6 separate regions of the Homo sapiens genome follow, and regions 1, 3, 4, 5 and 6 are each linked to region 2. Evidence: fine-mapped expression QTL. A gene starts in region 2. Each other region holds a variant in brackets. All regions are shown on one strand. Distances are from middle to middle.

Evidence for each region. PIP is the estimated chance that this variant, and not a neighbour inherited with it, causes the effect.
Region 1: its variant is fine-mapped to the expression of CD300C in whole blood (INTERVAL, PIP above 0.99).
Region 3: its variant is fine-mapped to the expression of CD300C in whole blood (INTERVAL, PIP above 0.99).
Region 4: its variant is fine-mapped to the expression of CD300C in whole blood (TOPMed, PIP above 0.99).
Region 5: its variant is fine-mapped to the expression of CD300C in whole blood (TOPMed, PIP above 0.99).
Region 6: its variant is fine-mapped to the expression of CD300C in whole blood (INTERVAL, PIP above 0.99).

Annotation. Positions count from the first base shown.
Region 1 is chr17:74,611,073-74,616,144 of GRCh38, forward strand. CD300E (CD300e molecule) reads right to left here. Exons shown (of 4, transcript NM_181449.3): 3 at 2,853-2,961; 4 at 1-1,701. The coding sequence ends at 1,581. All of the region lies in intron 3 of LOC101928343 (a long non-coding RNA gene), which reads left to right. Among named protein-coding and RNA genes, the nearest start is that of CD300E, 10 kb to the right of the region's middle. The variant T/C (reference allele first, on the strand shown) is at 2,045.
Region 2 is chr17:74,544,199-74,549,270 of GRCh38, forward strand. It overlaps CD300C (CD300c molecule), which reads right to left and starts at 1,917. Exons shown (of 4, transcript NM_006678.5): 1 at 1,524-1,917; 2 at 411-749. The coding sequence starts at 1,584. It also overlaps a transcript of LOC107985074 not described here.
Region 3 is chr17:74,109,778-74,114,849 of GRCh38, forward strand. LINC02074 (long intergenic non-protein coding RNA 2074) reads right to left here and starts at 3,122. Exons shown (of 5, transcript NR_184085.1): 1 at 2,869-3,122. The variant G/A (reference allele first, on the strand shown) is at 2,658.
Region 4 is chr17:74,509,127-74,514,198 of GRCh38, forward strand. No RefSeq gene overlaps it. Among named protein-coding and RNA genes, the nearest start is that of CD300LB, 20 kb to the right of the region's middle. RefSeq lists an enhancer at 3,341-3,590. The variant G/A (reference allele first, on the strand shown) is at 2,211.
Region 5 is chr17:74,522,929-74,528,000 of GRCh38, forward strand. CD300LB (CD300 molecule like family member b) reads right to left here. Exons shown (of 4, transcript NM_174892.4): 2 at 2,820-3,149; 3 at 651-723. The region is part of intron 1 of LOC107985074 (a long non-coding RNA gene); the gene reads left to right. Among named protein-coding and RNA genes, the nearest start is that of CD300LB, 6.0 kb to the right of the region's middle. The variant C/T (reference allele first, on the strand shown) is at 2,504.
Region 6 is chr17:73,933,531-73,938,602 of GRCh38, forward strand. It overlaps LOC107985081 (a long non-coding RNA gene), which reads left to right. Exons shown (of 3, transcript XR_001752999.1): 3 at 1-116. All of the region lies in intron 5 of LOC105371888 (a long non-coding RNA gene), which reads right to left. Among named protein-coding and RNA genes, the nearest start is that of LINC00469, 110 kb to the left of the region's middle. The variant G/A (reference allele first, on the strand shown) is at 2,739.

The DNA.
Region 1 (5,072 bases), 67 kb after region 2:
CTATGCTGTAATGACTTGGGAGCTTATCCTTCTCATAAAATGAATCATAAGCTCCTTTCTTGCTCATCATCATATTTCCCGGGTTAATATAATTAATATGGGCCTTGTTAGATTGAATTTCTCTTTCAGCATGAGTCCTGGGCCAGCCCCATCTTTCCCCTAGTCACCATGCATGATGGAGCTGGGAGCCCCACCAGAGCTCAAGTTCAGAGCACGGCAGCTCTGCCTAAGCACTCGGCACTCAGAGGGTCACTCCATGTGCTCTGGACACTGGCATCACTAGCTCAGGATGAGCTCAGGCCTGGGGGCAGAGGGGGAGCACTGGTCCAGATGTAGGTAGCAAGTGGAGATGGTGATGCTTGCTTGTGGCAGACTGTGGGAGTCCTCCCCACAAACTTTAGGGAAACAGAGTAATTGACAAACATTCAGAAAACCAACTGAGCTCATTCCCGAGCCAGGGGTCACCAGTAGTGGTGATAGCACTGTGCACTTCAAGTGTGGACAAGTATCCTTCACCTCTGTGCCCTCCATCCTGTCTTTGAAAAACGATATCTGCTCTGCCTGTGGAAAAGGTTAATTGCTAACAGGTGGTCTCAGCCAGACTTCTAAAGTGGACAGAACTGACTCTGTTGACCTTGTGCATTGGACACCTCCAGGTGGGGGAATTCCAGGAGTGATATCAGGGGCACCCACCAGCTCCTTCTCCCTTTACTGTTTCAACTCGCCCCAGAACTTTAACCTGGAGCAGCTCATCCACGGCCCACCCAGGCAGAGATGTTCTGAGCCCAGCCACACACTGCCTGGTTACAGGGAGAGAAGGGGCCTTAAAGCCAGGGAGACCCAAGGGGCGTCAGAAGACGAGAGGAGCCCTGAGCATGTGGGACACTGGGCAACTGCATGAGCAAGCTCTGCCGGGACCAAGCTCCCTTGGGGTTGTCCCAGAGAAGAGATGGAGCTCTGTGAGCCTAAAGGCTGGGGCTGTGAGGGGTGTGTCCTCAGGGAGACTCCTGTCTGCAGGAAGGAGGTAGTTATTGCCCTGGGGGAAACTGGCCTGAGAAGCATTTGTGCCAAGAAGAATGAAGGGCCAGGCTCCTCCAGAAAATTTTTTCCCTCCCTTCCTCCGTCCTTTTCTCTCTCTCTCTCTCTCTCTCGCTCTCTCTCTCTCTCTCTCTCTGTCTCTCTCTCTCTCTCTCTCTCTCTCTCTCTGAGACAGGGCTCTCTATGTTGCCCAGGCTGGCCTGGAACTCTTACGTTCAGCCGATCCTCCTGCCTCAGCCTCCTGAGCTGGGATTATAGGCACTCGCTATGGTGCCCGGCCAACTTCCAGGGAATTCTTGCCCTTGGGAAGTGGGCATGAGGGCAGGGAGGCAGGGGACTGGGGAGGAGAAAGGAGGACCCCCAAGCTGCACATTGAGGACTCCAGAGGAGTGTCCTCTAAGAGCCAGGACCCTCCTTTGAGGCACAGGAACAATAAATCCCTCCAGAGTCCACAGGTCTCTCGCATCCAGTCTGAAAGGTTGACTCCCTGCACGGGGCACTCCTGGGGATGGGGCTCTGCAGGGCTTCGGGTCAGCCTGGCTCTATCTTCCAGGAGGAGCCCACTGAGGCCTGTTCACCCAGAAGACAGCACCCAGCATGCTCAGGAGCAGGGGCAGCTTCAGAAGGACCACGAGCAGGAAGTGAGGGCTGCTGAGCCGGAACCTGTGGTGGACACGGTGAAAATGAGTCACTTCCCCGGGAGAACCCCCAGGACCCTTCTCTCCCCACCTCTCCCCATGCTCTGACTCTGGAGCCCAAATAACCCAGGAGCAGCCAGGGAAAGGACCTATGCCAGGGCAGCCCCTTCTGTGGCCCCCATCCCTCCTTCTCCCTCCATCAAGGACTGCCCGGGGGGTCTCATCAAGGAGAGGTGATGGAGTGAAGACAGAAGAGGGACCCACTTCCAGGAGTGCGCTCCACAGCACCCTCTCTGTCCCTGTCCCACTCACAGCCTCCACTTTATCAACTGACTTCTTAAAACCAGTCCCCACTCTCGCTTTTTTTA[T/C]TTTCTGAGACAGAGTCTCACTCTGTCACCCAGGCTGGAGTGCAGTGGTGCAATCATGGCTCACTGCAGCCTTGACTTCCTGGGCTCAAGTGATTCTCCCACCTCAGCCTCCTGAGTAGCTGGGACTACAGGCGCACCACCACACCTGGCTAATTTTGTATTTCGTAGTAGAGACAGGGTTTCACCATGTTGCCCAGGCTGGTCTCAATCTCCTGGACTCAAGTGATCCACCGCCTCGGCCTCCCAAACTGTTGGGATTGCAGGCGTGAGCCACCACACCCGGCCACCACTCTCACTGTTCCACTCCAGCTCCTTGTTCCCTCCCCTCAGGGTCTAGCAGCAATATCACAGCCCTTTCTGGATATCTTTGGGAGAGGAGAGAGAACTGATTCAAACCCCAGCCTGGAGCTGGCCCATCTCCCCACAGACCCCACAGACAGCTCCTGGTGGCAAAATCCCCAGCTGAGCAAAGACCTTTGAAAAGGGCCACAGAACTGGGACCCCAAGTCCGGAGCTGGATGGGGAAGGAGACAGGAAGGAGTGGGGAAGGGAGGAGGGGCTGCACGTCCACCTGAACTCAACCTTCGACCTGAGTCCCAGTAGCTGCCCCATAGGGAAAGGCGTTCACAGCACAAGTGATATTTCCCACTCAGCATCCACATGCAGCCTCAGAGAGTATGAGAATCAGGACCAGAGATGGAGAGAAACAGCAGACAGTGACGATCTCAGGTCACGGTGCGCCACCCCCACCCCCCAGCTTCCACCCCAGGGTTGCTCCCTCCATGGCCTCCAGGCCCTGCGTGCTTACCCTGAATTTTGGGTCAACACCTCCCCGGTGCTGAGGTTTCGCCCAGGGTTCACCACCAGGAAGATGGGAGGTGTGGCTGGATGTGTGGTCCTCCTTGGGGTTGTAATTGCTGTTGGAGATGAAAATGATGCATCAGCCGTGCCTGGGCTCCCAGCCATGCACAGAACACCCGTATGGATGTCATACAGAATCACCCACTCACAGAAGAGGCTGGAAAGATCTTCTGAAGCCAGATCCAGGGCACCTCCTGGGTGAAACCCCTCAGGGACAAAAAGAGCCCTTACCAGAACCAGCCATGAGAGTCCCCTCCAATAAGTGCCAGGTCTTTCTCTGCATCTCAGAGAAAGACTCTTACCACTCTGCCCACTCTGCCCTCATCCCACTCTGCCTGGGGTGAGGGCAGGGGTCTCTCTGGGCTTCCGCAGCCAGATGTGGAGTTCCAGGAGGAGGAGGGGAAGGAGGAGTCTAAAGGAAGATGGCTCAGCCTGTGGCCCAAGAAGCCTCGTAGAGACCATGAGAGGGGGCTCTGAGCACCCTTCATGTGGACACTCTTTTTTTTTTTTTTTTTTTTGAGATGGAGTTTCACTCTTGTTGCCCAGGTTGGTTGGAGTGCAATGGCACAATCTCAGCTCACCACAACCTCCACCTCCCGGGTTCAAGCGATTCTCCTGCCTCAGCCACCCAAGTAGCTGGGATTACAGGCATATGCCACCACGTTTGGCTAATTTTGTATTTTTAGTTGAGATGGGGTTTCTCCATGTTGATCAGGCTGGTCTCGAACTCCTGGCCTCAGGTGATCTGCCCTCCTTGGCCTCCCAAAGTGCTGGGATTACAGGCGTGAGCCACCGCGCCCGGCCCATGTGGAAAGGCCACTGTAGGCCACCCCTAGGGAGGGGATAGGTTGACACTCGGCTCCTCCTAAGGACTTCAGGTGACCACCAGACTATTGACATAGTCTACTCCCTCATTGCCACTGGACTCCCAGCTCATGATCTCCCTAAAGCAGTTGTCCTGGAGGCTCAGCCCTTCACCGGTGCCCGACACAGGCTCAGTGTGATCCGATAAGCCGCGTTCAACCTCTCTGTTGCTGGAGATTCGTTGATGGACGTGGCATGAGCCCCACCCCGTTGGAGGGGCAGAGACACATAAACAGACGGACTCACTTCCGCTGGAAGCAGCCCTGGGAAGGAGCCCCAGCAGGTGCAATGGGAGCACAGGGGAGAAGCCTAATCCACCCCCAGGCCAGCAGTGAGGAAAACATGGGCGGCACCTAGCAGAGGCGAATGCCGGACCATGGGATGCTTTTGGGAAGTGAGAGACATGATAGAGTGTGAGTCTGAGGACAGGAGATGGTGTGGATAGCTAAGGGGCAGGGGGCAGGGGAATTTGGTTCAAGAGGGATGGGGAGGCAGAAAACCACAGGACAAGGAGCCAGCCCCAGGAGGATCACCCTTGGGCAGGATGGGGAAGCCTGTCCTCAACCCGAAAGGGAAAGGGGAAGAATGAGTGTAGATTGCATGAAAGTTTGCAAGTGGAGAAGGAAAGAAACTGATGTCCTGTGTGTTCTCAGGAAGGTAGATGTATGGGAGAGTAATGTTGGAAACTCTTAACTTCTACTGGCAGCCACAGGCACCATTTTCTCACTTTTTTTCCCCAGCAGCGCTAGAGCAGGTGGATTTTAGACAGGGCGACCAACTTTCCCAGGACTTTTCTAGCCTTAGCACTGAAAATCCCACATTTGGGAAACCCCTTAGTCCTGGGCAAACTGGGATGATTAGTGACCTTTATTTTAGGATTGATCCAGGGATGAGGGTTTTGTCAGGTAGATAAGGAAATGGAATATGGGAGTTATGAGTGCTGCTAAGAGAAGAAAATGTCAGGCTGGGCATGGTGTCTCACTCCTATAGTCCCAGCACCTTGGGAGGCCAAAGCGGGTGGATGACTTGAGGTCAGGAGTTTGAGACCTGTCTGGGCAACGCGGGAAGATGCTGTCTCTACTAAAAAATACAAAATTAGCCAGGCATGGTAGTGCACACCTGAAGTACCAGCTACTCAGGGGGCTGAGGTGGGAGGATCACGAGCCCAGGAGGCGGAGGTTGCAGTAAGCCGAGATCGCTCCACGGCACTCCAGCCTGGGCAACAGAGTGAGACCATGTCTCAATAAAAGAAAAAAGAAAATGTGATCTATTGCAGGGGCTCAAAGTGGTCTAGGAAGGAAGT
Region 2 (5,072 bases):
GACAGTGGGCACCCTTCAGTATGGATCCGGCCCTTGTCAATACAGGGAGGTAGCAAGGACCCCAGAGTCAGGGGTGGCCTCACAGACCCCACCCAGGAAAGTTTCAGGCCTGAGGCCGTGAGGGAGGGCCCACAGCGGGGGGTCTCCAGCCACAGGGCCAGGGTGCTTTTGTGGGCGCCCACCCTCCCAACACACACATGCAGGTGCACACACACACAAACCACACCACAACTCCTATGCAGGCACGCATACACAAAGACGCACTCACACTCATCCACACACAGCGGCACACAGTGTCCTGACTCACCAACCCCCAGGCTCACACCCTCCTGTTCCACTTCTTTCTTCAGGGACAGAATGACCAGCCCTAGGCTCAGGCAGGCCTGGTGCTGAGAAAAGGAGGGGCTCACCCGGGAACACGGACACCTCAACCTCGACAATGGGATCATGAAAGTCTCGGAGCCACGGTGTATCCACCCCACACCAGTAGGTGCCTGCGTCCTCCTCTGTGAGATTCTCCAGGGTCACTGTGAAGCTGAGGTTTGCAGGACTGTCCCTGATGGACACTCGGCCATTCCTTTTCCCTGCTGACCCTTTGGTCTCCACAATCTTGTCACATCGGAGAATCTGTGGTGGTCTGCACCAGAATTTGTTGAGGGTCCTGTGTTCCTTCTCATAGCGACACTGCACACTCAGGGATCCCCCCACGGGGCCCGCCACGGTCATGGGGTGGCTCAGAGGAAAATAGCCTGAAAAATACAAGCCAAAATCCTGTCTCCTTACCAGAGGGGCCTGGTCAGGGGTGCCGCAGTGTCAGCCCCTCATGGACCCTGGGCGTGTGGAGAAGGCAATGGCAGGCAGGCAGCCTTTGTCCACCCAGGAACAGGGACTGAGGGTGGGAGGCTCCCTCTGTGCAGAGGTGGGAAGGGCATGGGAAGTTTCCATGGAGACTGGAAAGGCAAGGCTAGGGAAACACTGGGTGTGTGCGGGCCTGTGTGTGCATGTGAGTGTGACTCTGTGTGTGTGACTGTGTGAGTGTGACTGTCTGTGTGAGTGTGACTGTGTGTGACTGTGTGTGCATGTGTGACTGTGTGTGCATGTGAGTGTGACTGTGTGTGCATGTGTGACTGTGTGCATGTGTGTGTGAGACTGTGTGAGTGTGACTGTGTGTGCATGTGTGTGAGACTGTGTGAGTGTGACCGTGTGTGCGTGTGAGTGTGACTGTGTGTGTGATCGTCCCAGATAAAATTTGTGATTGGATAACTTTGGCAATGACAGTCACAGCATCACCTCCCACCAGGGCTTCCTGTCTCGGGCACAGAGGAATAGGCCTCCCCCGTGCTGTGCCCTGCCGCCTGCTGTCCCCTGGTGAGGCAGCTGCTGACCGCTCCTGGGTGCTCCTTTGCCCTCCTCCCCTCTCCCTGCCCCACTCCCCTCTATGACCGCTACTCCAGCGCCTGCACCCCTCCCTGCCCTCTCCCACTCAGGACAGAGCTCCCCAAGTCCAGGGTCGGCCCACTCACCTGGGACAAGCAGGAGGAGCAGAGCTGAAGACCGCCACGAGGCCCAGGCCCTGGCAGTCATTCCTGTAACACGAATGTCACCTGCCACTGTGCAAGACCCCAGGAGGGGACAAAATGTAATCTCCTCCCAGCAGATCTGAGCTTCGCTTCTGCTTTTCTTCTGCTCTCTGCTTCCTTGTCCAGCCCTGTCTCAGGTCTGAGGCTGGAGAGGGTCAGGGTACAGGAAGCTCAGGGAGAGAGCCGCCTGGGCTGAGGCCGGTGCTGACAGCTCTGGGATGGTGCTAGTGGCTCCTCTCAACCCTGACGTCTGGCAAAGTCCAGGGTCCCTTGGGTGGCGATGCAGCCACTTCCCCACAGCCCACAGCTTCTGGCTTCAGTGTGTTACTCACACTGCAGAAGGCAGAGCCAAGCTGGGCCATTTCCTACCACATGGGCTGCTCCACCCTCTGTGACATGTCACTTCCTGGTCAGGATGGACAATCTTGTGGTTGGAGGCTAAATCTGCCACCTTCTTTAGCCTTGGAGGTGACCAGAGAGAGGTTGTGTCCCTTAATCTTCAGCTAGGTCCCCGCAGAGACCTCTGCCCCTAAGACCCCCAGCTCTTCTTCTGGCCTCAGAAGTTAGCGCTATGAACCCAGACACCATCTGCATGTCCCTTTTTGGTGCTGAGTCCCCAACCAGGTTAAAATCCCACAGGCTTGGGGAGTTTTCCTCTTGTGCCCCTGCCCCCAGACCTACACACACAGCGGCATCACCCACCCGAGACCCTCCTTTTCCATCTTGTCTTCTTGCCAAAATCCATGCCCCAGTGGGAATCAGGGCAGAGAACTGAGAATAGAGAGAGAGTTCAGACATGTGAAGATGCTGAAGTGGGACTTTGTGGAGGATGTGAGGCTGCGACTGAGCCAGCACACACCCCAGGGCACACGGAGGGGTGTTTGGTGACTGAGAGGACAGTTTGTCATGAGCAGCGGCTGCTGGTGTCTATCCTGGGTCCACTGTGATGGCCAGGGGCCTCCGCAGGGAGCAGACATGGCAGACAGGCCTTCCCAGGAGGCGGGAACCCAGGTCTATCCACACTCGGCATGGCTGGTTCTCCTGACGTGATGGGCTCAGGGTGTCTTTACCCTGGAAAGGGCAAGGAGGCTAGTCAGACACAGGATTTACCTCCTGTCTGTCCTGGAGGGCATCACCCCTTCTCCACCTTCTCATGCCTTAAGCATATTCCTTGACTCTCCCAACCCTCCTACAGATTTCTGTTCCTTTCTTCCTATCAGAGTCAATAGCACCAGTATGTGCACACAGCCATGAGGTTGAGTGGAGAGTGATGGGAGTCTGGGCAAACCTGGCACCATGAAGGGGTCTCTGCACCCTCGACCTGCCCTGTCCTCCCTCCATTTACACTCTCAGGGACACAGCATGCACTGGGGTCATTGGTGTTGATGCCCCCAGACTCACATCATGGGACTATCTCTAGCCCAGTGCAATCCCAGGGCCTCCAATTAGCCCAGTGCTCAGGTCTGGCCTGGGCCTGGCTTTGAAGTATCCCGGCTCTTTCATGGGCTGACCTGGTCTCCCCTTCTGCTCATACCCACCCCTTTCATTCTCCACAGAATCAGCAATGTGATCCCTGACACACACACATGGCCCTGGGGAGGCGCTGCTGAACTCCCAATGGCTCCTGCTGTCACAGGATGGCACCCACCTGACCTGGCCTCTGCACACAGGTCCTGGCAGGCCCCAGCACCTGGTAGGTGTCTCCAGCCTCCTGGATCCAGGTTCACACTGGTGCTGCCACCCTCCCCACTCGGGCCTTTGTCCAGACCCTCAACCTCCCACTCCTCTGCCTGGCTCCAGCCGACAGGGTTGCCTGCGTGTTCCTTGACCTTCCCGGGTTATGGTGGCTCGCTTTTTAGGGGTCCTCATGACCCATTTCACACTTCCCTCTCGTCTTCCTCAGTCTTTCTGTTGGCGAGTCAATGTCTGCTCCCATCTAGGGTGGCCGCCCCTTGAGAGCAGGTGCAGCCTCTTGTCTCATTCACAGCTGTGCCCGTTATCATTCCAGAGTCTGCCAAGTGCAGTTTAACAAACTGGCTGTTGAAAGGATGAATGGGTGAATGGATACATGACATCCTGATGTCCCACTGCCTCAGAGGACTTAGTCATCCAAAGTTGGTGCACCATTTCCTGCCCAGGCTGGGGAGGAGACAGGAAATGCTGTCTGGAGGCCCTGAAGCCACCTGACCCAGGGAGGCATCTGCCCCTGGCAGGACATGTGCACCTGCTCCTCTCTCTGCCTCAGGGCTCCTCCTCCAGGGATCCTGGCGCTCACCCCCTCCTTTCTCCTGATCCCTGCTTGCTCAGCGCCTATTAGAGGGGCTTCACCACAGTCCCCCTCAGCTCCTGCACAGCAGTCACCCCACTTCTCTTATTTCATTCCGTGACTCTTTTCATCTCTGACTTTTATATTTCTTCTGGAATTTATGCACGTATTTTTGCATCTGTTTATCATTTCTATCCCCCGCCTGGAATATGAGCTCAATGAAAACAGAGCTCCTTGCCTGGGTGTTCACGGCTGGACTCCAATGCCAGGTCAGTGTCTGATACACCAGAAGCTCCCATAAGTATCTGCTGAATGTAAAAATAGGTGAGGACCCCCAGGCGTGTCCCTCCTTGACCTGGTGGACTCATGGGGATCATCTGCCTCACAGGGGTCTTGGGTGTGGCATCCCTGGAACCGAAACGATGGTCAGCTGATAACGTCTTCCTTTGTCTGGATAAGCAGACATGGTCTGCACTAGTAAGCAAAAGACTCAGTTAACTACCACATTAAGAAGTCACGGCCCTCAACCAATTTCCATATTTGAGTCAGTTAAAAGCCACAGCCCTGGAATGAAGGGGAGGTCAGGTCCCCTTGAGGAAGGAGGAAGGAAAGGCCTGGCTACCATGCCACAACTCACACTGATAATCTTCTACCAGCCCTCCCGCAGGGACCAGAAGACACTGGCCAGGATGTGTCTACATAAGGAACGGAATTGTCAGGTTTTGGGGGGAATCCTGGATCCTCTTCTGCAGGGACCCCAGTCCTGAGAGGCCCAGCCTGGGGCTTAGTCCACTATTCTGAGCAAAGGCCTGTGGAGATCAGGGAACAATGGAGTTTTCACCCAGGTCTGACTTAGTGGGCATGATAGGTCCAGAATCTATGTATTGTCATTTCTTAAAGTTCGAAAGCATCATTGAATTGACACACTCAGCAAATGGAAGCAGCCACATATTCTGCACTCCTGGACCCGGGGAGTGTGGGCCATTATGGTGGCAAAGGTGCAGGGGAGTCCTGGACCTGCTCCTCCCTGTGAAAACGTTGAAGGAAGCAATGCCAAGCTCCTGGAGAAATGGAAAGGTGCAGAGAGGGCATCAGGCACTTAGAGGTGTTGGTGACAGCTCGAGGTTCAGCTGGCCAGGGCGTGCACATGAGACATGGAGTCACAGCTCAGGGCGTCTGTGTCCATCAGGTTCACGTGTGATTCATGGATCAGGCACAGGGAAAAG
Region 3 (5,072 bases), 430 kb before region 2:
CCAAGGAGCTTGGCATCTCCCTTGCTCCTGGTGAGACCGGAAGGCAGGCTGGTCCCCAGCTCTTCAGAGTGGAGCTGGGAAGAGCTGCAGCTGCCCCAACGCTGGGAAGTCACCAGTCCTTAGGGTTGCTACGTTTAGCAGATGAAAATTCAGGATGGGCCAGGTGTGATGGCTCACACCTGTAATCCCAGCACTTTGGGAGGCCGAGGCAGGTAGATCACCTGAGGTCAGGAGTTCGAGACCAGCCTGGCCAACACGGTGAAACCCTGCCTCTACTAAAAATACAAAAATTAGCTGGGCGTGGTGGTGGGTGTCTGTAATCCCAGCTGCTCCGGAGGCTGAGGCAGGAGAATCACTTGAACCCGGGAGGCAGAAGTTGCTGTGAGCCAAGATCACGCCACTGCACTCCAGCCTGGGTGACAGAGCAAGACTCCATCTCAAAAAAAGAAAAAAAAAAAAAGACATAACAGCCAGGTAAATCTGAAAAACAGCTCTAACTGCCTAACTTGTAATGTTTTGGTGAGAGACAGCTAAATAATATTTAGGGTGTTCCAACAGGGTCAATATGGGTCAAAGGACAACATCTGTTAGCTCAGAAGAAATCTGTCAGCACAGAGCATATGCGTTGGCCGGGCACGGCGGCTCATGCCTGTAATCCCAACACTTTGGGAGGCCAAGGTGGGAGAATCGCTTGAGCACATTTCAAAAATCAGCCTGGACAACATAGGGATATCCCTGTCTCTACAAAAATAAAAAAAAAAATGAGCCACGCCTGGTGGCACGTGCCTGTGGTCCCAGCTACTTGAGGGGCTGAGATGAAAGGATTGCTTGTTGAGATCAAGGGTGCAGTGAGCCGTGATCACGCCACCGCATTCCAGCCTGGGAGACAGAGCAAGACCCTGTCTCAAACAAAAAAAATGTGTATACACAGGGCCCCTGGCCACCGTCCCCGCTCGAAACCCCACGCAAGTGTGTGGGAAGTGCCCTGCCCCACACACAGTAATCTGTCTGCTCCTCCCAGGGTGAACTCCGTATGAATGACAGCCTGGCAGTCTGTGTGTGCTTCCCCACTAGGGTAGGGGCCCAGAAAAGGGCTCTCCAAAGTGGGCTGATAACATTTTGGACTGTTAAGTCTTTTCATCCTAGGGGGCCTTCCTGGTGGAAGCAGGCTTCAAAGAAAGATTTATGTACACCACAGAGCTCCAGCATCTCCTACATTTAAAAGTCTGGGACACTCTCAAAGGACCAAATAAGTTGCATTGGAACAAAAGTGACAAACAGGAAGGCGGGATAGGTAGGGGGCGGGTAGTGCCATGGGGCTTGGACACTGTGGCTGGCAAGTCATTTCACCCTTCTGAAACTGGTTTTTTTAATTTTATAGTTAAAGGATCTTGTTATGTTGCCCAGGCTGATCTCAAACACCTGGGTTCAAGCGATCCCCCTGCTTCGCCTCCCAAAGCGCTGGGATTCCACTGGCCGGCTTGAAACCCTCTTATTTGTGGGATGAAGACTGCCCAGCCCACAGGTTGTTTTGAAGATCACATGGGGTGATGGAAATAAAAATGCTTTCAAATAGCAAGCTGCGGCCGGGCACAGTGGCTCACGCTGTAATCTCAGCACTTTGGGAGGCTGAGGCGGGTGGATCACGAGGTCAGGAGATCTCTCGAGACCATACTGGCTAACACAGTGAAACCCCATCTCTACTAAACAAAAATAGAAAAATTAGCCAAGCGGCTACTCGGAGGCAGAAGAATGGCGCGAACCCGACAAGCGGAGCTTGCAGTGAGCCAACATGGCGCCACTGAACTCCAGCCTGGGCGACAGAGCAAGACTGTCTCAAAAAAAAAGTAAAAAAAAATAAAAATAGCAAGCTGCTACAGAATGGAATATAAGCTCCTAATAAAATTGGACATGACCTGACACCGAGTACCAAGCTAAACACTTCACGTGCTTTATCTCAGCGCCTCTCAGTTAATCTCATCGTCACATGCCTATGGGGCCAATCCATAACTTCTTCACTTTGCATCTGTGGAGCTCAGAGGTCTTGTACGGCCTGGCCCCACAGTCGGTAAATGAAACACAGACCCTGGCCGGGTGCGGTGGCTCACACCTGTAATTCCAGCACTCTGGGAGGCCAAGGCAGGCAGATCACGAGGTCAGGAAATTGAGACCATCCTAGCTAACATGGTGAAACCCGGTCTCTACTAAAAATACAAAAAAATCAGCCAGGCATGGTGGTGGGCGCCTGTAGCCCCAGCTACTTGGGAGGCTGAGGCAGGAGAACGGCGTGACTCCGAGGTGGAGCTTGCAGTGAGCCGAGATGGAGCCCCCACACTCCAGCCTGGGAGACAGAGTGAGACTCTTGTCTCAAAAAAAGACCCTGATTCCAAACCCGGTGTTCATTCATTCCTTGTTCAACAACGATTCAGCAAATGTTTGCTGCCATCAGCAGAGTTCAGGGTATCAAAAAGAAAGCAGTGGATGGGAGACACCCACTCTTGCTCTCATAAAACTCAGTCTATTAGAACCATCACCACAGGAGAAAGGATAATTTTCCAAGCATTTACAAGGCACCAAGGACCGTGCTAGGTACTTTCCATGATATAGGAACTAATGTTATTCCCATTATTTCAATGAAAACCGAAATTCAAAAAGGC[G/A]AAATGATAAACCCAGGTCACACAGCTACGGTGGAGCTTGGATTTGAACCCAAGTCCTGGACTCCAGAGGCCTTATTCTCCCTTGCTGCTACGCTAGAGAAACAAAAAGCTTTCATTGTGATGATTTAAAGCTTAACCCTCACTATAAGGATAGTGACCCCATATATTACCATGTTGTGTCTGGAATTTGTGGATTCTTGGTCTTACTAACCTCAAGAATGAAGCCGTGAACCCTCGCACTGAGTATTACAGTTCTTAAAGGCGGCGTGTCCGGAGTTTCTTCCTTCTGGTGGGTTAGTGGTCTCGCTAAGCTTCAAGAGTAAAGCTGCAGACCTTCATGGTGAGTGTTACAGCTCATAAAGGCAATATAAACCCAAAGTGAGCAATAGCAATATTTATTGCAAAATAGTGCAGAGTGAAAGAACAAACCTTCCACAGCACAGAAAGATAACCAAACGGGTTGCTACCGCTAGCTCCGGCAGCCTGCTTTTATTCTCTTATCTGGCCCCACCCACATCCTGCTGATTGGTCCATTTTACAGAGAGCCCATTGGTCTGTTTTACAGAGAGCTGATTGGTCCGTTTTGACAGGGTGCTGATTGGTGCGTTTACAATCCCTGAGCTAGACACAAAAGTTCTCCACATCCCCACTAGATTAGCTAGATACACAGTGTCGATTGGTGTATTTACAAACCCTGAGCTAGACACAGAGTGCTGATTGGTGCATTTACAAACCTTGAGCTAGATACAGAGTGCCGATTGGTGCATTCACAATCCCTGAGCTAGACATAAAGATTCTCCAAGTCCCCACCAGATTCAGGAGCCCAGTTGGCTTCACCCAGTGGAGCCGCCTGCCCGCCCGGCGCCGTTCGCCCGCACTCCTCAGCCCTTGGGCGGTAGATGGGACTGGGCGCAGCGGAGCAGGGCGCGGCGCTTGTCAGGGAGGCTCGGACCGCGCAGTAGCCCACGGCGGGGGCGGGGGCGGGGGCGAGGGCAGGGGCGAGGCTCAGGCATGGCAGGCTGCAGGTACCGAGCCCTGCCCCGCGGGGAGGCAGTTAAGGCCCTGCGAGAAATCGAGCGCAGCGCCGGTGGGCCAGCACTGCTGGAGGACCCGACGCACCCTCCGCAGCTGCTGGCCCGGGTGCTAAGCCCCTCACTGTCGGCCGGCCGCTCCGAGTGCGGGACCCGCCAAACCCACGCCCGGGGAACTCTACCAGCAAGCGCTGTGCGCAGCCCCGGTTAGCCCCCGTGCCTCTTGCTCCACACCTCCCCGCAGCCTGAGGGAGCCGGCTCCAGCCTCCACCATCCCAGGAAGGGGCTCCCACAGTGCAGCAGCGGGCTGAAGGGCTCCTCAAGCGCGGCCACAGTGGGCGCCGAGGCCGAGGAGGCACCAAGAGCGAGCGAGGGCTGTGAGGGCTGCCAGCATGCTGTCACCTCTCAATGTCAGGTTTTCAGAGTCTAAGTTTGTGAAATTTAGAAAGAAGAGGAGAATCGCTGGGTATAGATGTAAAACAATGCTTTGTAGGAAGGATCTAACATTTTCTTTCAGGATGAGGGCAGGAGTGCGTATCTGAGGCTTTGGCTCAAAGACAAAGAGGGAGAGAGAGGGCTTCACCTCATGATCTACAACATTTCCACGATGTACCACCGCGTCCCGGCTCCCCGATCCCCTTGGAAGAATTCGTTCTCTCGGTCAGAGCGACCTCGCACGCTGATCGGTCGAGGGACCCGCCATGCTCAGGGCTCAGCACCCCCGAGTTAAGGAGACAAGAGCAGCCATCTCCCGGCCCCCAAGCACCCGGACTCACACCCGCCTCTGCTGCGACTTCACCAAGGAAGGAAAAATGGCTCGAAATGCCTGTACATTAAGAAGCGTATAATTATGCATAATAAAAAGACGCCGGCCCTTGTGTATATAAACACAGCTTTGACTGAGTGCCTTCTCCCAGGCAGCCCTTCTGGCTCTCAACAGCAGCAGTGGAACATCTTAAACATATGGTCGCCATCCAGGCCTCCAGGCAGATCTGAACTGGGGAGGGGGTGGGGGCAGGGGCAGGCGGGAGGTGGAGACGGGACGGGGATACAGGAAAATCAGGAGATGGTTGTTTGGGGAAGAGGGTTACACGGAGAGCTGGTGGGCCAGGGGTCAGACATTTACAATCAGGACATAATCTGTGACCTGCCACCCCAAGTTGAGCTGTCTTTCTCTCTCCCTCCTCTGCCCCAGGCTCAATTTGCCCCCAAAGACAATAATAGGGAGTTCTGCCACCTGTCTCCGGGGAGCGGGAAGGAGAGCTGCTGAGTGGCAGGAATATTTCCTGGTTTTGATTTGGGGATCCTCTCATTTCTGTTTGCACTGATTTCAGCACCTGTCACCTGCAAGGCGCTGAGTAGGCAAGGAGGGAATCCCCCAGTG
Region 4 (5,072 bases), 35 kb before region 2:
CTTGCATTTCTAGTTCTTTAAGATGCATCATTAGGTTGTTTATTTGAGGTTTTTCTACTTTTTTTGATGTAGATACTCAATACTGCTTTCACTGTATCCCATAGATTTTATTGTGTTGTGTTTCCATTTTCATTTGTTTCAAGAAATTTTTAAATTTCCTTCTTACTTTTTTTCATTAACCCACTAGTTATTCAGGGGCATATTGTTTAATTTCCATGTTTTGTATAGTTTTCAAAATTCTTCTTGTTATTGATTTCTAGTTTTATTCTTTGTGGTCACTGAAGACACTTGATATGATTTCAATTATTTTGAATATTTCAAGACCTGTTTTGTGGCCTAACATATGGTCTATCCTTGAGAATGATCCATGTGCTGAGGAGAAGACTGTGTATCTGCAGCTGCTGAATGAAATGTTCTTTTAAATATCTATTAGGTCCATTTGGTCTATAGTACAGATTAAGTCCAACGTTTCTTTGTTGATTTTCTGTCTGGATGCACTGTCCAATGCTGAAAGTGTAGTGTAGAAGTCTCCAGCAATTATTGTATTGAGGATATATTATTTTAGCTATAAAGATATTTGCAATATATATCTGAGTGCTCCACTGTTGGGTGCATATATACTTACAATTGCTATATCCTCTTGTTGAATTGATTTCTTTATTATTATATAATGTTCTTCTTTGTCTCTTTTTATAGTTTTGTCTTAAAATCTATGTAATGTGATATAAGTATAGCTATTCATACTCTTTTTTGGTTTCCATTTGCATGAAATATCTTTTTCGATTCCTTTAATTCACCTATTTATGTCTTTATAGGTGAAGTGTGTTTCTTGTAGGCAACAGATCTTGGGTCTAGTTTTTCTTTTTAATCCATTCAGCTGCTCCATGTCTTTTGACTGAAGTGTTTAGTCCATTTACATTCAATGTTATTATTGATAACTAAAGACTACTCCTGCCCTTTTGTTACTTGTTTACTGGTTGTTTTCTGGCCTTCTCTTCCTTCCTTCTTTCTTTTCTTCTTGTCTTCTTTTTACTGAAGCTGATTTTGTCTGGTGATATGTATTAATTTCTTACTTTTTATTTTTTGTGTATCTGTTGTATGTGTATGTTTTTGAGTTGATATTACCATGAGGCTTGGAAATAATATCTTATAACTCATTATTTTAAGCTGATGACAACTTAACACTGATTGTAATAACAAGCTAACAAACAAGCAAATATAAGGCTAATAGAAAAAAACTCTACACTTGAACTTCATCCCCCCACTTTTTAATTTTTTGTTGTTTCTATTGATACCTTATTATACTCTCAATGTCTTAAATGTTGCTTTAGGCTGGGTGCGGTGGCTCACACCAGTAATCTCAGCACTTTTGGAAGCCAAGGTGGGCAGATCACTGGAGCCCAAGAGTTCAAGACCAGCCTGGGCAACATGGCAAAAACTTGTCCCTCCTAAAAATACAAAAAATAGCCGGGTGTAGTGGTGTGCACCTGTAGTCCCAGCTACTCAGGAGGCTGAGGTGGGAGGATCACTTGAGCCAGGGAGGCAGAAGTTGCAGTGAGCCAAGGTCATGTCACTACACTCCAGGCCTGGACAACAAAGTAAGACCCCATCTCAAAAAAAAAAAGCATAGTTATTATTTTTTATATATTTTATAGGTTCTTCTTTTAGTCTTTCTACTCAAGATATAAGTGATTTACACACAATTTCAGGGGTTAGAATCTGTTTTTCTGTGTACTTACTATTAATAGTGAGATTTGTACCTTCAGATGATTTCTTACTGCTCATTAACATCCTTTTCTTTAAGATTGAAGAACTCCCTTTAGCCTTTAGCACTTCTTTCTTTTTTTATTTTTATTTATTTATTTGTTTTAAGATGGAGAGTCTCACTCTGTCACCCAGGCTGGAGTGCATGGCACAATCTCAGCTCACTGCAAACTCTGCCTCCCGGGTTCAAGTGATTCTCGAGCCTCAGCCTCCCAAGTAGCTGGGATTACAGTCATGCACCACCATGCCCTGCTAATTGTTGTATTTTTAGTGGAGACAGGTTTCACCATGTTGTCCAGGTTGGTCTCAAACTCCTGACCTCAAGTCCCTTTAGCATTTCTTATAGGACAGGTCTAGTGTTGATAAAATTGCTCAACTTTTGTTTGTCTGAGAAAGTATTTCTCCTTCATGTTTGAAGGGTATTTTCACTAGATATACTATTCTAC[G/A]ATAAAAGTTTTTTCCTTCAACACTTAAATACCACTCTCTCCCAGCCTGTAAGATTTCCCTCAAGAAGCCTACTGCCAGAAGTTTTGGAGCTCCCTTTTATGTTACTTATTTCTCTTCTCTTTCTGTTTTTAGGACCCTTTTTTTTATCCTTGACTTTTGGGAGTTTTTTTATTAAGTGTCTTGAGATAGTCTTATTTGGGTTAAATCTGCTTGGTTTCTGGAACCTTCTGGTATTTGAACACTGATATCTTTATCTAGGTTTGGGAAGTTCTCTGTAATTATCCCGTTGATAAAACTTTCTATCCTGATCTGTCTCTACCTTCTCTTAAGGCCAGTAACGCTTAGATTTGCCCTTTTGAGACTATTTTCTAGATCTTATAGGCATGTTTCATTCTTTCTCATTCTTTTTCTTTTGTCTCCTCTGACTCTGTATTTTCAAATAACCTGTCTTCAAGCTCAGTAATTCTTTCTTTGGCTTGGTCAATTCTGCTGTTAGGAGATTCTGATGCATTCTTTGGTGTGTCTATTTCATTTTTCAGCTCTGGAATTTCTGCTTAATTCTTTTTTATTATTTTGATCTCTTCATTAAATTTATGTGATAGGATTCTGAATTCCTTCTCTGAGTTATCTTGGATTTCACTGAGCTTCCTCAAAACAGCTATTTTGAATTCTCTGTCTGAAAGGTCCCTGTTTCTCCAGGATTGGTCCCTGGTGCCTTATTTGGTTGTTTGCTGAGGACATGTTTTCCTGAATTGTCTGACTGGCCCTGTGGCCTGAGTCACATTTCAGCTGAAGTCCCAGGCTGCTGCCAACACCTCCATGGCCTGGCAGTCTTCCACTGGAGTTCAAGTTACACTGCTCACCAGAGAATCACACGCATTCAGTGTGTGGACTCCATCCTCACAATCAGATGCTCAGTGTCCAAAATGCTGGGTAAGAAACATCCTGAAGAACACAAATCTGAGATACAGCCTCTTCCAGGCCTGCTCCAAGGCTCCAGACCAATGCATGAAGCACAGCCTGAGTCCACGTGCCTGAGGGAACAGACCTCCAAAGCCTACATTGGGAGCTTCCACCTGGCAAGGAAGGTGTGCTAAGGGCAGAGCTTCCGGCCTCCCTGTTATCTCAAATGTGGACCTATCACTGGGGCCCTAGTACTGGGCCCAATACTTGCCTCCACCCTTTGTCAATGCGAACATCCTTCCTCCTGGGGACAGAGATTTAGAGGTTGACTTTAGAAAAAGCCACTCTCTATAGATATTTTGAAGCAGCAAGTCCCCCCAGCTTCAAATTTTGTGCTGGCTGAGGCAGCCCAGCCTGGTTGGTGACTAGAATGGCCTGAACTGGGAGTCATGGAAACTGACTCAGAGTCATGGAAAGTTGGGGCTGAAAGGGGAAGAAGAGGTCATGCACCATCCGTCTTGCAGCTATAAAAACTAAGGTTTAGGTTGGTGAGGGGGTGTACCCGAAGGATGACTCAAAGGGTACTTCACGGGTAAAGGAACTCAGCTCAAATAAGGTGACTCAAGTCTATTTACAGCCTTGTCCAGTGTGGACTCAAGAATAGCCTGGCCTACCACCCTGAGCTGTCAGGGAGGACAGATGAGATGGACATTGTGAAAATGGGGTACTGCCAGCCTTTAAAATGCGGCGAGTGCACAAGTCACGCAGTGCTGTTATCAACTCATGATATAAGTTCCTCTTCCCTCCCCCGACTGCCTGTGTTGAGTCTCAAATTCATCCCACTGCAGGGAGGTCAGAAAAAGTTCAGAACTTCTTTCTGACCTCCCTCTTGTGGGATTTAATGAGGACATGAAGTGGTGACATTGAGGTGGGAGTTAAGGAGAATGTGCTGGGCTTGGGGCCCAGCAGATGGACATATGTTACCTGTGCCCCTGGGGATGATTCTACCTTCTAAAATGGGCCATGGAAACCTGGTTTCATGTGGTTGGGTCAATCCCCCCAGTGCTTCTGAGGTTGATGAGTTAAACGATGCAAAGGCCATGGTTGGGAGATCTCCTCTTGGGATACGACTTTGGTGAATTTACCTGGGTCTGGTCCTCATTCCTGCAAATCTAGAACCCGACCACCATCCAGACAAGAAGAGAGACTGAGACCCTACAATAACTCAAGTGATTTATTTTGGGGACACTCCTTTCCAGGAAGCTGAATGCTTGTGACCCTCATCTGTTTTTCTGATTTCAGCTGCCTGGGAGGTTGCCTGAGCAGGCAGGAGGCAGCTCATGGGCATGGACTTGAACTGATGCCTCGAATGGCCTGCCTGGCCTTTGTCTTTCTTTATGTTCCATTACCAAATATTCTGCTCCTGGAATCACAGCCTTTGTTTTTATTTATTTATTTATTTATTTATTTATTTATTATTTTAAATGTTTTATAGAGATGGGGGGTCTTGCCAGTACAGGCTGGTCTCAAATTCCTGGGCTCAAGCAAACATCCTGCCTCAGCCTCCCAAAATGCTGGGATTACACAACAATGCCCTAAAATAAGACTTTCAGGTGAAGCTTATGCATGTCTTTCCTGCTTGGTGAGTAGGGTATGATTAGAGTTGGATTTTTCCATCCCATATTCACTCTACAGAATCAATTTAGTGTTCTGCTTATCTATGGGACATTGATGTCATGTGATGGGTGATGTCATGTGATGGGTGATGTCATGTGATGGGTGATGTCATGTGATGTGTGATGTCATGTGATGGGTGATGTCATGTGATGCATGATGTCATGTGATGGGTGATGTCATGTGATGGGTGATGCCATGTGATGGGTTATGTCATGTGATGGGTGATGCCATGTGACAGGTGGTCATGTGACAAGGTGATCCTGTGATGAGTGGTCATGTGA
Region 5 (5,072 bases), 21 kb before region 2:
CCTGGGCATCCCCAGGCCATGTCACTCCCATCCCCTGACCCTGTGAGCCACCAGCCAAAGCCTGTGACCCTGGGCCGGGCAGCCCCACTCTGAAGATTCCTGTAAACCTCCTCCTTGGTTCAACCTCAAGGGGTCCTCCAACAGTCACCTTGGCTGGTTTTGCACGGGGCCCATCTTCCTTTCTAACATCACCTTCTGGGACCCTCTTTGCCCAAAGTACATCTCAGCTCAACAGAAGCGCCAGAGGTCACCAAATACAGGTTGTGTTTCCTGCCTCTGTTCCTGCTAATGCTAGCTCCAGGCTGGTAAATCACCCTTCCTGTTCTGTGTCCCTTGATGTCTTGCACCACAGAGGGTGGTATCTTATCTCCCCCTGGCACCCATTAGGCCACCAATGCAAGGTTGACTGATTGACTGGGAGAATGATGCTCACTGAGAAGAGTTCTGCAGAGCGGTTTTCTGGTGAGAGCTAGAGTGGGGAGATGGTGGATTGCAGTGATGGGGGCAGGAGAGAGATGGAGGGTGGGCTTGGGGCCTTGACTCTGGCTAGAACAGGTGCTGGCATTTGGTGACAGGCAGGAGTTCCCAGGCTTGGCTTCCCCTTAGGAGGGACCCCAGGTAGGGGCAGGAGAAAGAACCACATGACTCACCTCTTGTGGGAGCCGATGAACACTGCCATATTGCTGTTGGTAGGTGAGCTTGCTGTTGTGGAAGCCGCTCCCTCTAGACACAGGCAAAGTCAGCCATGGGTTATTAGCACAGTTGGGAGCTCATGCATGGGTCACAAAGCCACGCGACCCTGCCAGCCCTCACCAGAAGACCCTTTTCCCTGGAGTAGGAGGATTTTTCTCTCCTGCTACAGCCCCTCATGCTTCTACTGAGTCACTTCAATCTCAACACACAGACATTTTTCCTCATCATGTTCAGATGTGGCAAGAAAAATTAAAAATTAAACAGGAGTAAACACTGTAGTTTATTCTGGGAGAGAGAGGTTTTTTCATACTTTCTTTCCACCTATCCTGCAAGTGGGACTATTGGATGGGGAAATAAATTTCTGGTCTTTTCCACTGGAGTGGTGCCTGAGCAGGGCTTAAGGAGAGAAGATTCTGGAAATGGGCTGTCCAGAAATTGGGGTAGTCCAGAAAAAGGGAAAGGGGACTCCAGAAGGCTCATGAAGAAAAGGGCACACTCCAGTTAACTAGAGAACATCGACTATGAGAAACGGAACATTTTTAGGAGCAACCATATAGGCAATTTGTTGGGGGCAGTCTGGTCAGGGGGGCCCTGAGCCCAGCCCAGCACTGAGTATCCATGACCCAACAGTGATCTTTTATTTCAGTCCTCGGCCCCAGCAAATTTTTCTCAAAGGTCCCAGGCTGTCCAGGCACGGTGGTTCACGCCTGTAATCCCAGCACTTTGGAAGACCAAGGGAGGCAGATCGCTTGAGGCCAGGAGTTTGAAACCAGCCTGGGCAACATGGTGAAATCCCATCTCTACAAAAAATACAAAATGAACCAGGCGTGGTCATGTGCCCCTGTAGTCCCAGCTACTCAGGAAGCTGAAGTGGAAGGATTGATTGAGCCCAGGAGGTCGAGGCTGCAGTGAGTCAAGTTCACCCCACTGCACTCCAGCCTGGGCTACAGACTGAAACCCTGTCTCAAAAAACAAACAAAACAAAATAAAACAAAACAAAACAAAAAAGTCCCAGGCTTTGGCCACACTAGGTGGGCTCCTGTCTGAGCTGCAGGTAATTCCAATCACAACAGTTCCTATGGAGCCCCTGATCGTTTTACAGGCTGGTACCCCTGTAGATCCCCCACCCAAGACTCCGGAACATCTCTCTCCCTAAAGCTCCACACTGGCCACTGTTTTTTGTCTCTTTGTACCGCCTGCATGTCTTGCTCAATCCCCTCTCTGCCCCCATAGATATTCTGGGTTTCCCCTACTTGGCAGCCCTGGGGAAGTCTTGCTTGACCCTTTCTGGACTCCTCTTTACTCAGCTGCAGCCACTGTGTCCATGTGCCTCTTTGGTCCCAACCCCAACAGTACACAGGCTTGTTCTAAAGCCGGCATTGTCTATTTCCACATCACCACCAAATGGACCCGAGTGGACACTGAGCTGATGAAGTACTGAGTAGGGGTGTGCGGGTGGAAGTGGGGGTTGGGGGCTGCTTCCCAGACTCCAGCAACAGCAGCAGGATGACCCCAGAGTCTATCAGTAGAGTCCAAGGCATGGAGGAGAAGCCAGGGCACCCAGAGTGGTCCCTGACGTTGCCCGTGATGGAAGCCATCCTTTTGCTTTAAAGCGTCCACTGTCACCCATGCACCTCCCTGGGGCTTTCTTACCCCGTGCTCATCTTACACAGCCAGATAAAGTAGCGGAGCAGGTGGCTGGGGACCTAGAGAGGAGGGTGTTGTAAGACACCCAGAGCTACTCTGGGTTGGTGCAGTTAGTGGGACTCAATACTAGGACCCCCTGGGCAGCTCTAGGTTCCTTCTCTGC[C/T]ATGTCATGAGCAGGGCTGGGCCACCAGTCACCAAAGCTGAGGTCCCCATTCCCACCCCCATCCCAAGCCCCACCTGGATTCCTTGGAGAGACCTCAGGGACTGAGATAGCAGAGCGATGCTGGCCACCACTCTCCCTTAGTTTCTGTCACCTCCTTCCCAGTCAGTTTGTCTGCCTGTCTGTCTGTCTGTCTCTCTCTCTCTCTCTCTTAGGCTCACCATCATTCCCTTTCAGCCTTGGAGGGGAGCAGGTAAGAGCACTGACTTTCCCAGCCCTGAGCTCCAGGGCCTCCTTGTGTAGATGAGAAAGTTCTTACCTGGGTCAACGATCACTTTCACTTGAGTCCCAAGGTCAGGTCCTCTTCTTTCAATCCCACACCAGTAAACATCTGCGTCATCTCGCCTGAGCCCCTCCATGGTCACAGTGAACGTGCGGTCTTTCTGATTGTCCTTGATGGACACACGGTCACTCTTCTCTCCTTGCTCCGACCCTCTGGTTTCAATGAGGATCTTGCATGTATCCCAGCGCACCCCTCGGCACCACCACTTAATGTAGGTCTCCCATCCTTGCTTATAGTGGCATTGAACCGTCAGGGACCCCTGCTCTGGGGCTCTCACAGACTCTGGGCCTTGGATGGAGAAACAGCCTGGAAAACAGAATCCCAAGATACAGCTCATTGCACCGGCACGAACCCCTGCTCTGGGGCTCTCACGGACTCTGGGCCTTGGATGGAGAAACAGCCTGGAAAACAAAATCCCAAGATACAGCTCCTGTTGCCTGAGCCAGTTTGGTGTTTAAGAGTCCCGAGTGTGTCTCTAGCACACCCGATTCCTCATCCCCATCTCCCTCTCAGTCCATTCCCCCACCAGCTTCTAGACCTGCTTAGCATGTGACACCATGGTCTCCTACCACCTTCTTTCCTTGTCCTCTCAATGCTGTTTTCATCGGAGCCAAATATTTAACAACCAGCCCTCTGGGGGAAAAAATCTCTGGTTTAGGAGCTGGGCACGGTGGCTCACACTTGTAATCCCAGCACTTTGGGAAGCCAAGGTGGGCAGATCACCTGAGGTCAGGAGTTCGAGACCTGCATGGCCAACATGGTGAAACCCAGTCTTTACTAAAAATACAAAAATTAGCTGGGCGTGGTGGCAGTCACCTGTAGTCTCAGCTATGCGGGAGGCTGAAGCATGAAAATTGCTTGAACCCGGGAGGCGGAGGTTGCAGTGAGCTGAGATCGCACCACTGCACTCCAGCCTAGGCAACAGAGTGAGACTCTTGTCTAGAAAAAGAAAAAGAAAAAAAATCTGGTTTTAATATTTGCCAAATTCCATAGTGTAAATACTCCCACGGTGGCAGATGTCAGGTAATCCATGTGATGTCACTGGACACAGAGCTGGGAAAAGATGTCCCAAGCCAGCTCCTGTGAGCCAGCCCCAGCACACTGCGGGGGTACCCAGGGTTCCCTCTCCAGCCTTCATCTTGTCTCACCTGACAAGCCTCCATGGAGGGAGTCTCTCCATTTCCATGGCTTTAATGATTACCTGTTTCCTGATGATTCCCAAATCCATATTTGCAGCTCAGACTCCCCTTAGCTAGCCCACCATTTACAAAGACACACTGGATGTCTCCACCCCAGATTCCTTCGTTGCAGAATTGAATGCACTTCCTCTCCCACCCTGAACTACTCTTCTTCAGTATTTTTTTCTAGTGGAGCAATTGGATGTGGCAAGAGTAACAAAGGCCTGGTGAAAGCTGAACAGGTTAGAGGTGAGCATAATCAAATGGCAGTCCGTGCCTCCGCTGATTGACTCCAGTTAGGCTGTGTGTAGATAGGCTCTTTCCTTGGCAATGACACGGGTTTCTTGATCACGCAGAAGTGGATAAACAGGCAGAGAATCACAGGGGAAGCCTCTCTTGACTGTCTCTTGGCCTCAGAGCTTCAGGCCCAGGCCAGGGGTCTCTGCAGGGTGGAGAAAGCCAGGTCTATTTCTCCAGGCAGATGCCGCCTCCTCACAGCTTGGGCCTTCTCCTTGAAGCTGTGTTAGTTTTCTTGAACTTTGCATTCGTGGTTGGTAGAATAATGTCCCCCATAGCTGTTGGCATCCTCATACACAGAACCTGCGAATATGTCCCCTGACATGGCCAGAGGGACTCTGCCGATGTGATGAAGTTAAGGACCTTGAGACAGGAAGAATATCCCGAATAATCTCCATGGATATTCTAAGTGAAAGAGGGTTGAGGGAGAGTCCAATTGGAAGATGGTCTGTTGCTGCTTTGAAGTGGAAGAAGAGGCCACCGGCCAAGGAAAGCAGATGGCTTCTAGAAGCTGGAAAATGCAGGGAAACAGATTCTCCCCTAGAATAGGGGTTCCCAACCCCAGGACAACAGACTAGTAACAGCCCATGGCCTGTTAGGAACCGGACCTTACAGCAGGAGGTGAGCGGTGGGCAAGCAAGCGAAGCTTCATCTGTATTTACAGCCACTCCCCGTTGTTCAAACTACCACCTGATCTCCGCCTCCCATCAGACCAGCGGCCGCATTAGATTCTCATAGAAGTGAGAACCCTATT
Region 6 (5,072 bases), 610 kb before region 2:
CACTGGGCCACAGCAGCCGGTCCATGGACTCCAGATCTAGAACCCATGCTGGGTAGAAACCCCTTCAACTGCTCAGGCAAGTCATTGGATCTATCTGAGCCTGACTGGATTTTTCATTTGCAGGAGAAAGTTGACGAATCTGTCCCCATGTTCCTCTCAAGCCCTAGTTATAGGACTTCTGAGGTAAAGGACAAGTTGGGAGAGTATCGTAGTTGGGCTGTTCTGGAAAGGGATGTTAGTCCTCCTGGAGCTGGTTACTAGTACAGGATTCTTGGGGTTACAAATGATGGAAAATCAAGTCTAACTCAAGAAAATTTGCTTCATGCCACCAGAAAGCTGAGAGTATTGGTTTTCTAATTGCTGTTGTAACAAATTACCACAAAGTGAGTGGATTAAAACAACATAAAGTGTTATTTTGCAGCTCTGGAGGCCAGAAATCCAGAAATGGGTTTATGTGGCTAAAACCAAGATGGTGGCAAGGCTGCATTCCTTCTAAAAGATGTAGGGAAGAATTCATTCCTTGCCTTTTGGGTTCTGAGAATGCCTGAAATTCCTTGGCTCACAGCCCACTTCCAGCAATGGCATAACTTTGACCTTTATTTCCATGGCCACATCTCCCTCCCTGACTCTAACTGTTCTGCTTCCCCTTGTGATAACACTGAGCCAACCCATATAATCTGGGGTAATCTCCCCATCTCAAAATTCTTAATCATATATGCAGTACCCCTTTTGTCATGTAAGGTAGCATATTCACAGATTCTAGAGGTGAGGATGTGGATGTCTTTGGGGGCCATTATTCTTTCTGCCAACTTTGGGGAGCAGACTTCAGGTGCTCCTGAAGATCCAGCACAAGGAAGAGGGTGCAAGTGGCTCAAACAGTATCATCAGGGTCTTTCTTTCATCTTTATCTCTGCAGTCTGCTTCCTTCATGTTAGTCATATTCTCAAGGCCATTTCAAATAGCTTTCCCCCTGCTAGCCAAGAAAAATGCTGCCTCTAGCCCTCAATTATGGCATTTCAGATTAGTAGATATTAATAGTTTGGGAAAAAATAATCTTTCCCCCTCTATCTTTCTCTCTGCCCTGGTCCAAATACCAGTCTCTGTGTAGATCCCTTGAATTAACAAAGGGATGCTTGGGAAGAAGGGCACCGGGGAGATATACAAATCCTTGAGACAGCTAGGGTGGGGGTTCATCAACCTAATTTGTAGATTAATCAGCATGTACCCATTTAGTAATCCAAGCTGGTGATGCCAGACACATCAGCTACAAAGTGCTCTAGCAGCAAGCCTGGTCATTATTTAGTCTCTTATAGATCAGGCCAACCACACAGAGCATGTGCAGGAATCCCAGCCCTGCTCAGCCCAGAGCATTGACATTTGTGGTTAAGCAGGGCCCCATGGAAGCCACACACCCGTCCCCCTTGGTTTCACCACGTGTCTCTGTAACTTTGAGGGAAAAGGACCCTCCCTCCTGGGATGGGATGATAATTAAGAGTAATTTCAGTCCTGTTGGGCTCCAGTTACAACAATTACAGGGTTCTGGATCAATTAATACTCACATTTGCATGGAGAAGATGGTGAAATTTAGAATGTAGACCCCCCATTTAGGAGCTATAGCTAGGGTGACCCTACAGCCAGGTGTGCTAGGGACAGTCGTGGTTTGCACCTGAATTATTCATAGTTCTGCTCTTCACTCTCAAAGTGGTCCCTGTTTAAATGATCAGTGTTACGGTTACCCTAATGTTAGTAGAAGTAGAAAAGAGTTTATTTTCCCCTTCTACTGTTTCACTTACCCCTGAACCAGGTGGGGGACTCTAAGGCAGCAGCTGGAGAAGACCCCCAAATCACACAGGTACCCCTCTTCCTTGTGCCGGCTGTAAAGCCAAGGAATAAACCAACCCTTCCCATTGCAGGGAGTGGGAAGCCAGTGATGTGGCTTCCTAGTAGCTGTCCCCAGCCTCTAGACTGTACCGTCTGGATCTGCAGAGGCCTGTTCACTGTCATGCCTTCATGCAGATCTCTGGGGTAAGTGCTCTGTTGCTGTAGGAAAATAACTTACAACTTTTCTTTGAATGTATTTACATGAATGCCTATACCTTTATTTAAATGCATAAATGTTGTCATTACATGATTCATGTGTATGTGTGTGTGTGTGTTTGTGCAGACTCTTAGTTTTTTTTCCTGTTAGTTTGACTTTCCTTGACACCTCTCCTCTGTCCTCCACCCATAACCACTAGAAATTCATGCTAATAGCCTAGTAGGGATCCTTCCACATTTTTCTTCATGATCATATTATCCTGTATAAATATATACATACACACACTACATGTGGTAGACATGTATGTACATACATGTATGTAACTTTTTATACACACCCACATGCATTCACTTATACACATGTGTGCACTTATACATGTATAGCCAGCCTTTTGTCATTATTTGTTTTGCAGAAATATATGATATTCAGTTTCTTGCATCTTGTTTTCCTCACTCAACAATACCTTGGGGAACTCTCTCTCTGTCCTCCAATATTGCTCTAATTGTTTTCAATAGGGCATAATATCGCATGGTATAAATGTACTATAATTTATGCACCCAGACCTCAAGAGTGACTGCTCACTTTGTTTTCATGGGAGAAATTTCCCACATTCACCAAATATAAATGTGTGACACTGGCCGGGCGCGGTGGCTCACGCCTGTAATCCCAGCACTTTGGGAGGCCGAGACGGGCGGATCAC[G/A]AGGTCAGGAGATCGAGACCATCCTGGCTAACATGGTGAAACCCCGTCTCTACTAAAAAAAAAAAATACAAAAATTAGCCGGGCATGGTGGCGTGCGCCTGTAGTCCCAGCTACACGGGAGGCTGAGGCAGGAGAATGGCGTGAACCCGGGAGGTGGAGCTTGCAGTGAGTCGAGATCACGCCACTGCACTCCAGCCTGGGCGACAGAGCGAAACTCCGTCTCAAAAAAAAAAAAAAAAAAAAAGTGTTACACTTTTGCCCTAATGCTCCTGACTCACATCTGATTCAAAAGTCTTTAAAAACACATGTCGATTTGAAAAATATAATCAGCTGCTATTTTTTCCAAGATGTCACACTGACCCACCATCAAACTGTCGGCACAGCTTGGTACACTTGTTCCCTACGCAGAGTCACAATCAGCCTTTTGTATTCTCTGGTGTTTGTTGTCTGATTGCAATTCTGAATTGGGGTGACCATCAAAACTGGGTGCCTACACAGGAGGCATCTCAATGTATTAGAGAGGGGCCAGTCTTTGGAACAGACAGACCTGGGTTCAAATTCTGATAACCATCACCTATAAGCTGGGAGATTTGGATAAATGCTCACCTTCCCCCAGCCCCTGTTTTCTTTGTCTTTCAGATAGAAATCATGATACCAACCACATAGAGCATTAAATGAGATTATGGGTGCACAGGGCCTGGTCCCAGGGGGCCCACTGCCCAGGTGGCTTTTCCCAACCACAAATTATGAATCATGTTGGACTTGAAGGGGAAAAGTTCAAATTGATCAATAGCGATGTCAGGGGCAAACAGTCCGAGTCAGATAAGCAAACAGAAACAGGTTGTTTTTGGAATAATTGGATGCCCTGTCTTTGTTTGCAGAGCAGCGTGTGCACCATGGATGTTTAAGGAAGCTTATTGCCAGCAATGTCCAGATGACTGGTGAGCCACAGCAAGAGAGGGGCCTGGCTGCGGGAGGGATCCAGAAAGCAGGGAGCTGATGGAGGTTTAGGATTAGGACCTGAGGAAGGGATGCTAGGGCAAGGATGCGGGAGGTAGCAGTGGCCTGAACCCTCCTACACTCTGGCCACAGACTTGATGTGGCAGGAGTAGTTGGGTGGGCATTTTTCCGCCTGGCAGCAGAGGTCGCTTTCTGTCCTCTCCCCACACCATACATCACACTTTCCAACTCCACCATACTCAACCCCCTAAGAAGAAGAAAGAGGAAATGAGCTCCACAACACAGGTCTGTTACGGACTGAATATGTGTGTCCCCTCAAAATGCATATATTGAAGCCCTAACACTCCAGTGGGATGGTATTTAGATGTGGGGACTTTGGGAAGTGATTAGGGTTAGATGAGGTCACAGGGTAAGGCCCCTATGATGGAATGAATGGCCTTATAAGAAGAGGAAGGAAAAGACTAGAGAGCATGCATGCGCTGTCAGTCTCTCTCCCTCCCTCCTTGCCACGGGAGGACACAGCAAGAAGGTGGCCATCTGCAAGCCAGGAAGAGAGGCCTCACCAGGACCCACATCAGCTGGCACCTTGATCTTGGACTTCCAGCTTCTAGAACTGTAAGAAATAAACGTCTATGGCATTCTGTTATGGAAGCCCAAGCTGACTGAGACTGCAGCCCTGCCTTTCCTTTTAGGGTACCCAAAATGGAGTCCTGTGGCCAACACAAGCCGTGTGCCTCATCTCTTGCCATGTTCCAGTAGGGGGATATAGCTGTGGCCAAGACAAGTGGGGAGGTATCTGGGGTGCTCACAGGCAGGGCCTGGAGAGGAGCCCTCTTCTGGGCAACTTACACAGGACTCTGAGATACTCCTCAGCATCTCCCCTCCTTGGTGCTAGGCATGGTGTCTTGCACACAGTGGGAGCTTTATATGTGTTTGGTGAGACATTGATTAAAAATAATAGACAGCGAATACACGCAGATGTGGAGAGAGACGGAACCAGCAGTTGCTAGATTGGAGGAAAGAGTGTATTCCCGCCTCAGCCCCGCCCTGTCCACAGCTATGAATTAATCTGCGGTGGGGAGCGGGATTCCTTCATTAAAATCTCCAAAAAGGGAGTCATATTAACAGCCAGGCACACCGTTCTTTTCCCTCAAGGTAAGAAGATTCATGGCTCAAACTTACATTTTATCACGCACAACCGAATAAAAATGATCAATTTCCCTGCCCGCCTTACAGCATCCTTCCACAGTTATTAAAGTCTCTAAAAATGTTTTCCTTAAAAAAAAAAGGTTAAAAGAAAGAGAGGTGCAGAGAGTGCAAACCAAGAAGAAGCTGGGAAATGCTGCCTAGCTGAGGGCTATCCATCTTGTCAGC